2 separate regions of the Homo sapiens genome follow, and region 2 is reported to be linked to region 1. Evidence: microRNA targets listed by miRTarBase, many of them from high-throughput screens and not tested one by one. Region 1 holds a microRNA gene; the other region holds the end of a gene's coding sequence.
Evidence for each region. Region 1 holds the annotated microRNA hsa-miR-3152-3p (UGUGUUAGAAUAGGGGCAAUAA, at 2,212-2,233, opposite strand). A microRNA usually pairs through its seed, bases 2 to 8, with sites in the 3' UTR of a target mRNA and lowers its output. Matches are read on the target gene's strand: a 7mer-m8 pairs with bases 2 to 8, a 7mer-A1 pairs with bases 2 to 7 and ends in A, and an 8mer does both.

Region 1 (4,395 bases):
ATTTTTCAGATTCCCTAATTCCATTTCATTACCACTAAGAGTCCTAGAGGAGGAAGTAAATAGCAAAGATCAGAAATGATTTATTCAGATATATTGCTTTTTAGAATGTTGATTGAATAACTCTAAGGCCCTTTCTAGCTTTAAAATAGTAAAATTCCACATTCAAATTTACACCTGAAATTCATATATCTCTTGTATATAAGGAAACCTTAAGATATGTTTCATCAGTGACAAACTCCTATATGACATCAGTTTCTCTGCCTCATGATTTTAAACTTTAGGAAGGTTGACTATGTTTGTTTCCCTCTTGCATGCATAAAACCTTGCCTGACATCTCACATCTCTTATAGTCATTTACACTACAGTTTTTGCCTTTACATCCAAATATAGATGTAAGTTTTAAAAAAATAAATTTGAAACAACAAATTACTAAAACATATATTTCTCTTACATTCCTAGCCGTGATATTATACATTCTGAAGAGAGAAAATTTCAGCTGACACCATGTTGGAAAAGGCAAATACTCTCAAAATTTTGTGTCTGCTTCATGAAATATAAAAGCATATAGTCAAATACAGCACACAGAAAAACAATAGCAACTGCTTGCTCCAAAAACTAGACTGGTAATCCTAATCCAAAAAGTGGACCTGAAAATAAAGATGGCAAAGACATGACAAACATACAAACCCTTTTTCACCTTACTAATTCCCTACCTAGAGTAGACATTGATGAATGGATGGATACCAGAAATCAAACCTTTTTGTAATCCTGTTTTAAAGATTTAACTGGCTTAAGTCCAACCTAGCTGGCTCTTCCATGACTTTCTCTACAGTGTGTCTGAATTTTCAATACAATGGAAATTATAGTAAAGTAGCAAGTTTTCCTACAGTTTACTTGGGGATTTTAGAATTGGTCTTACCTGATTTATTCTGAAACTGAGTCAATGAAAATCCAGTCTCTAAATACACACACACACACACACACACAAACACAAACACACACTTCAGGAATAGCCAATCCAGGGGATAATTTCAAAGTCTAGTACATAATTGATAAACACTATTCAAAAATTTTTATTCTTTTATATTCAAGTGACACTCAAGGAAAGAAAAATAACTCTAGTCTACTTTTCCTTCGCACAATACAACACTTGGTACTTTTCACTGAAATCATACCTTAATTTTCAAATCTTTCACCATTTACAAACTCTAAAAAGTGTAAAGATGAGTGATTCAGAGAGTGAGACTATGTAAACCATTTACACAAAGACATTGAAACCCTCTGGACAAGTTGAATGAGAACAAATCAGCACTTACTTGGCATAAACCACTGATGCACATATCCAAAGATTCTGTATAGCAACGCGTACCATCTAAGACCTTAGGTGCTAGTTCAACAACCAGGGTTGTTCCTTTGGCTTGGCACTTGAGTGAACATGGGTTGTCAGGGTCATTAGACACAGGAAGCCATTCATAAAACTGGCCATGGTGCTTGACATCATTATGAGCTGAGCATTGCTGAGCTCGGAAATCACCTGCTTCTGGTGGGCAGTCCTGGAGAAAAAAGAGAGAAAGGACATACAAAGGTTAGGAGGATACCCCCAAACATGAAACCAGAGCAGCTATATGGTCTGCTTAGGTCTTAGAAAGCAAAACAAATGTCCTGGTCATGATAGATGGAACTTATAATATCATCTTAGAGGTTATATGATTATTTGGCTTGCAAAATGTAGAAATCTGATAAAGCAATCACCTCAAAATACATTTTCTGATTGAGTTTAAATGGAAAAATAATTGGCTTGAAATAGATATTCTGATTAGGTGGGACATACATTTTTTGAAAGTTGTCTATTGGTTCATGAATTCTTCCACACTGTACTATCATTTTGACTTCCTCATAAGTAGAACCTAGTAAAGTCAGAGGATTAGTTGAAATTATTTGTCTCTTTCAGTTCTGATATTGAGAGCTATGACAATTGTTTATTTGAATAACTAGCAGTAAAAAGTTATAAAAATTTCATTCAAAAAGTTTTTGTGGAGTTGTAATTTTTTGTCTAGGACTTAGGTTGCATAGTATCTAGAATTAAACATGGGGAACAAAAAATATGAAACCATTTATATATGAATTGCTTTGGCTTAAGGCAGCATGGCAGAATGGAAAGAGCATGGACTTCCTCCTTAGATGGGTGGGTGGCTGCAATGCAGTGCAGAGTTATTGCCCCTATTCTAACACAGGGAAGCCTAGTCTTGTGTTAGAACAGAGGCAATAACTCTGCACAGCTCTCAAGGTTGTTGTGAGAAGTTCACGAACTCATGCTGGCCAAATATATGCACAAGGAATATACTGAGTAGATGGTAGCTATTACTATGATTATTTAATGAGGCCACAGAAGGCAAAGGGATGGAGTATGAGGAGATTCTCTCAATTTGAATTGTAAATTATATTGTTAGAGATCAGTGGAAAATAAGAATCTTTTTGATGTAAGTTTCATAAAGGGCAATTTAAAATGTAAAACTATGGCTAACAATGGCCATTATCTAATGAATAATAAATCTCAGTAAAAGCAGGTAAGATTTAATTTTAAAAAGGCAAATATTGCCTATCCCTTGGAAGGGCTTTTTGATAGGTTTATCTTATTCTACAAGCCTTCAGATTAAAATTTACCATGGAAGACTGTCGTCGACTCTCCAGCTGTAGAAAGGCTTTTATTCTAATTTTTTGTTTTAAATAAAGGATTTCCATGTAGCCTTCAGCAGTTCCCTGTTACTACATTATCATTGTGAGAGTTCTCTTATATAAGGTTTCTTTCTCTGAAAAATCTCTTTACCTTTAAATAAGCATTCTAAAACAGCACTGAAAATTTTGACTCTTTTCCAAAACATTAGTGATACTACTAAAGAGCATATAACGCTCTGGTAGTTGAGGGAGCACAAATTCTTTCTAGGCAATGTGGGGTAGAAACAAATATTTATTTAGGATGAACATGAAATTGTTCAAAATACAATATAAAATGTCAAAGACATTTTACTGTTAGTATTATGTGTTCTCAGAGTGAATAAACCATAGTAGCAGAGGAAAAGAATAATGTATATAACATAGGTACAGATACACAGGCACCCAGCAAGGCTTAACATTTTGAATATTGTCTGAAAAGAGTATGAATAAAATTTACCAATTATTAATTTTTTAGATAATAGGATGCAGTTTAAATTTTTTAAGATCCATAAATAAATAAATATGTGTGCTATACAGGCTGTTTACACGTTTATTTTGTAAAATAAAACAAAAACTACCTACAACCAGCAAAACTATATTATGAATTACAACACAGGTAAATTGTGTCAAATCATGACATACAATACAAATTAACTTTATTTTTTTTTTTTTTGACAAGGAGTCTCGCTCTGTCTCCCCGGGTGGAGTGTAGTGGCGTGATCTCGGCTCACTGCAACCTCCGCCTCCTGGGTTCAAGCAGTTCTCCTACCTCAGCCTTCTGAGCAGTTGGGATTACAGGCATGTGCCCCCACACCCAGCTCATTTTTTTATATTTTTAGTAGAGACAGGGTTTTGCCATGTTGGCCAGGCTGGTCTCGAACTCCTGACCTCAGGTGATCCACCTGCCTTGGCCTCTCAAAGTGCTGGGATTATAGGCATGAGCCACCGCAACTGGCCACAAACAACTTTAAATGTTTAACACAAGCTCCTTTCAGACCATATGTTCTAGAGCACAGAGAAACTGATTTAATATTGTCTTAATGAACTCACATTCCAAAGATAAGACTTCCACTTGCCTAATTTACAAATTCTACCAATATCTGCCTAGGCCTCACTTACTAACTTCTGCCCTAAAACAACTCTATAACTAACAACTGCCCCCAAACTCTACACGTAGCCTTCCTTAAATTTCCCCACTTGAGATACGATAGAGTCTCTGTCAAGGTGCTGCTCTCTCCTGCTTAGCATGTTTAATAAACCTACCTTTATATGATCCACAAGTTCCTGGTCATTGAATGGGAGCGTCTAAAGTTGAACTGACAGTTTAGCAATGTTTAAATACAGTATTTTCGTTTGATAGTACCTATCATCCCAGGAGTCACTTGATTACTCAGTACAAGTACAGAAGAAGTAGAGTACATTGTACTGGGGGTACAGTACTTCATTATACTGAAATACAATAAAGCAGAACATTGAGGAAATTGTTTGAAATGGTTCCAAACTCCTCTTAAAATTTCCTTTGCCTCCTTTTTCTATACAAGTGAAACAGTTAGAAGGGTCAGGCTGAATCGCCTCTGCCTTAATGAGCAGAAGATATAATTAAGAGACCTCTTAATATGAACCAGGGAAAATTTTCTGCACGTTTCCAATTCTGATAAAAGTGTCAATTATGTTTTTAAA
Region 2 (4,395 bases), not on the chromosome of region 1:
GAATGAATAACTTATTCAAGATTATATAGCTAAGTGGTAGAGCAGAGATTTGAAGCAGCTCAGAACTGCCTGCCTGTCTGTGAGGCCCCCGCTCCTTGGTCAACAGATTGAATTGCCTCTTGTATACAGGCCAACAAGGAGGGCAGTGGGGACCCTGCAGCAGGCTGCTGGTCCATCTAAGGAAGGCTTCCTGGGGGAATGGGTTGGTCTCTGTGGCAGCTGCTCCCAGTAGGCAACCCTGGGCTCTGTGTGCATCCACAGGCAGCTGTCAGAAGACCTGCTTCTCACGCGTGAGGCCCTGGAGAAGGAGGTGCAGCTGCGGCGACAGCTCCAGCAGGAGAAGGAGGAGCTGTTGTACCGGGTCCTTGGGGCCAATGCCTCGCCTGCCTTCCCTCTGGCCCCTGTCACTCCCACTGAGGTCTCTTTCCTCGCCACATAGGGTGCAGGGCCTGGGCCCACCACGACGCCTGAAGTCACAGCTCCTTCCAAGGTTTTTCTGGAGAAGACAGCAGGAGCCTCTCAGTTCTTTTCCAGGAAGGAACGAGGGTGGGAGCGAGATGGAGATCCTGGGTGTGTGCCCAGTGAGCCCTGGGGCCTTGAGTTACATGGAATCACCCACAGGGTTTTGGAGGCCCCGAGAAGCGTCTTCCCTTGAGTTGGCCAAGGGAATAAGCAAGAGGAGACATTTCCTCCCTGCCCCAGCACTCTGTCCCAATCCGAGAAGTTCCGAGGCTTTCCCAGGGGCAGTCTGTGTCACGCTGGCCATTTGACATAAAGGAGACAGCCCCTGGTCCCAGCTTGTCAGCTCTGCTGCCGACTTGCTGACTTATCAACTTCCTCTAGGTGTTTCCACTCCACCCTGGCCTGCTCAGAGCCTCAGTTTACCCCTGCATTAAAATGGTGGGGGGACTGGTCAAAGGACTCTTATGTCACTGCAGTGTCCCATTCTAGGATTGTCTGAAGGCCAGAGTAGGGGTTGGGGGGAGTGTGGACAAACCCCGCAAATCAGAGTGGGGAAGGTGAGTGGTAGAGAGGGGGTCTCTGAAGGCCCTTGGGGCTGACAGGGCCAGGCAGCCTCCCCAGCTGAGGCATCATTCCTGGGCCAGAGTCGTGTCCACCAAGGGACAGTAGCCAGAGCTCCTCTTCCTTTACCAGGCAAGGTGCATCCCCTCAGCCCTCCTGGCCCTTCAGTCTTGGTGCCACCTGGGCACAGGGGCAAGCTTGGTGGTTGTGAGTCCATTCATCTATCAGAGCTGGAACCTCATCCCTGCACAGATGAGGAAACCAAGGCATGGAGCAGTTCCCAGAGTCGAATCTAGATCTCATCTGTCATCCGGGTCTTATCCTTTGCTCTGTTTTTCTCTTCAGGCTCTGGAAAATCAGATCTGTGACTTAATCTTCCTCTCCCTGGCCCTCACCCACTTAGTTTCTTTTTCATTCCTGCTCCCTGCCTTAACTCCTCCTCCCACTGCCCCTGATCCCAGGCCCAGGCTTTTACAACCTGGTGCTCAGCTTCCCCATCAGTGAAAAGGGGTGGCTAGAGTAACTAACCTCAGCAGGCCGTCCAGTCCTGATAGTCTGTGGATTTCGGATCCTTCTCAGGAAGCTTCATGTCTAATGGAGACTATAATTATAACTCCTGTTCTGCATAGAGCATTTGCATCAAAGGCTTTCCATACCCCTCCCTCCCCTGGTCCTCATAAGATCCTTGAAGCAGGTTCCTATTCCTCATTGGCAACATGGCAAACAGATCACAGGAGTCAAAGGGCCTTGCTCAAGGTCCCCAGCTTCAGCCCCAGGCCCTAAGCCAGCGTCAGAACAGTCAATCTGCATTTTTCATCAGTCATTCTATAGTGACATCATCCCAGACTGCCTTCTGTATTCCCCTGTGTACAGTCTCCTTCTGTTTCTAGGTTTAGAAGTTCAGAGGTGACTGTGTTTCTCCATTTCCACAGCCAAATGGGGGAAGAGGTGAGGCTAGGGGAGTGCTGTGCTGATTCTCCAGCCATGGTCAGACAGGTCACCCAGGAGCCTCGAGGAAAGCCCTGGAGGGAATCACATGTGTACTTTTTCATGAAGCTTTTTGCAAAGCACATCTGCGATACACTAGTTTATTGAACTAATGTCCAGGAGTAGACATGATTGGTGGCCAAGTTATTTGGGGACACCTAAACAGATCAGTGACCTGAATGACTTCTCAGAACCTTTAATATGCCAATGTGTGTGGCAAACTTACAAGAAGGGAGCTAAGTATCCAGCCTCTCCCAAACCTCTTTGAACAAAGCTTCTGTCCCTCCCACACCTCTCACCTCACAGGCACATCAGGCTGCAGAATGCGCTTTAGAAAGCATTGTTTTAGTCCAGGCACAGTGGCTCACGCCTGTAATCCCAGCACTTTGGGAGGCCGAGGTGGGTGGATCACAAGGTTGGGAGATTGAGACCATCCTGGCTAACACAGTGAAACCCTGTCTCTACTAAAAAAATACAAAAAATTAGCTTGGCGTGGTGGTGGGCGCCTGTAGTCCCAGCAGCTTGGGAGGCTGAGGCTGGAGAATGGTGTGAACCCAGGAGGCGGAGCTTGCAGTGAGCCAAGATCGCGCCACTGCACTCCAGCCCGGGTGACAGAGCAAGACTCCGTCTCAAAAAAAAGAAAAGAAAAAAGAAAGCATTGTTTTAATTGAGAGGGGCAGGGCTGGAGAAGGAGCAAGTTGTGGGGAGCCAGGCTTCCCTCACGCAGCCTGTGGTGGATGTGGGAAGGAGATCAACTTCTCCTCACTCTGGGACAGACGATGTATGGAAACTAAAAAGAACATGCGGCACCTTATTTATGTGACTTTTGTGTTTTTCTGGGAGGGTGGGGAGGTGGGTCTTCACAAGGACTTCTGCCAATGGTGGGGATCTCTGAAGAGTAAATCTGGGGCCTGGGTAGCCCACTCGTGGTTCTGGGCACTCTCCTCAAGCACCAAAGCCCCACTGGCCCTTGCTTTGCCCTAATTGTGGATGTGGGGCCTGGGGCTAGGGTGAAGCCTGGATTAAAGGATGGCCTTCAAAATAGACCAAGGCTTGGAGTGAGGCTGAGGTTGAAGTAAGTGGTGAAAACAGAGGGATGGGGTGGGAGAGACTGCGAGGATGAATGAGAAGTCACCTTCTGCACTGCAGGACCCCTCTTTGGCATCAGAAACACTGATGTTCCCACAGGTACCTACCCCTGATTCTGCCTATTGCTCCACATCCAGATGCCTGTGGCCAGGGAGGGAGCTAGGAAGGGGTAGAGGAGACACGAGGACCTCGAGTCACGTGGACATGGGTGGTGGCCAAACCAGTGCCCTGAAGGTTGGTGGCCCAGCAGGTGTAGACACCAGCATCCCTAGCCCAGGTCCCCTCCACATACAGGGTGCCCTCTGCCTCCTGCTGTACCTGGCTCTCCCCGTGTACCACATGGGCCTGTTCACTGATGTAGAGTGGTTGGCCCAACGGTAGGGGATAAAAACGGACTGTCCATCAGCTGCCCCAGGTGCATCTCTGACTCACACACCAGGGTCAGGTAAGAGGCACCATTTATCTCTTTGGGGAAAGGAGAAGTGACTTGCCCAAGGTCACACTTCAGCTTGGTGTCAGAGCACCTTAAAGGCCAGGTTCTTTGTGAAAAACGTTAAGCTTCTCAAGTCTGCAGAGAAAAGCTGGGTTTCCCTCCCCTTCTCAAAGAGTGTCCAGAGGTAACTCAGTCCAGGGAAGTACTTCCCAACGTGGGTTTTGTGGCCCTCTGCTTCTGTAGGGATGCTACCTCCTCAAAGGAGAGGAAGAGGAAGAATTTTACTACCAAAAGTGTTTTGGAAACATTAAGAAAAGCAAAGTGAAATTGGGTAGACTCCGACCACTGAGTCTGTTACATGTACCTGTGTATTTTGAATCTCCAAGACAGGTAATGGTTATAAGAGGAAGTGAGGTAGGGTGGGAGGGAACTTTCTGGTATTCCACCCTTCTAAAGAACATGTTGGGGAAATCCTGGTAAAGCCAAGCCAGTGTCTCCTGACCGTCTGTATGCTCCTTTCCCCTTCTTGGGTCTCAGTTTCCTCTTCTGACAAGTGGGAGAATGATCCTTTACCCTTTCCAATGCCTAAGGCCTCTGTGGAGTTCACCTTTATCACATCCTTGCAGCCACTGCAGGGAATGGAGAGATGAACTCGGGAAGTCGCTATGTGCCAGCTCAGGCTACACAAATGACTGGAGCGAGGTGGAGCCAGAGTGTTTTAAGTTCGGGGGGAACAGGGCACCCTCACTGGGTTCCACAGGGCACCCTCACTGGGTGCCACTGGCCTCCTTTTCAGGGCTACTGAAAGTGGTGATCTTGTCAAATCACAGCTTGTAGAGCACCTTGTTTCCCTGTCCTATACT

Region 2: miRTarBase lists CCDC69 as a target of hsa-miR-3152-3p. Seed matches in the 3' UTR shown: 8mer at 2,450-2,457.

What each region holds. Positions count from the first base shown.
Region 1 is chr9:18,571,188-18,575,582 of GRCh38, reverse strand. It overlaps MIR3152 (microRNA 3152), which reads right to left and starts at 2,277; the gene lies at 2,204-2,277. ADAMTSL1 (ADAMTS like 1) reads right to left here. Exons shown (of 29, transcript NM_001040272.6): 4 at 1,317-1,553.
Region 2 is chr5:151,179,481-151,183,875 of GRCh38, reverse strand. CCDC69 (coiled-coil domain containing 69) reads left to right here. Exons shown (of 9, transcript NM_015621.3): 9 at 262-2,824. The coding sequence ends at 439. It also overlaps the pseudogene PDGFRL2P. Among named protein-coding and RNA genes, the nearest start is that of ANXA6, 24 kb to the right of the region's middle.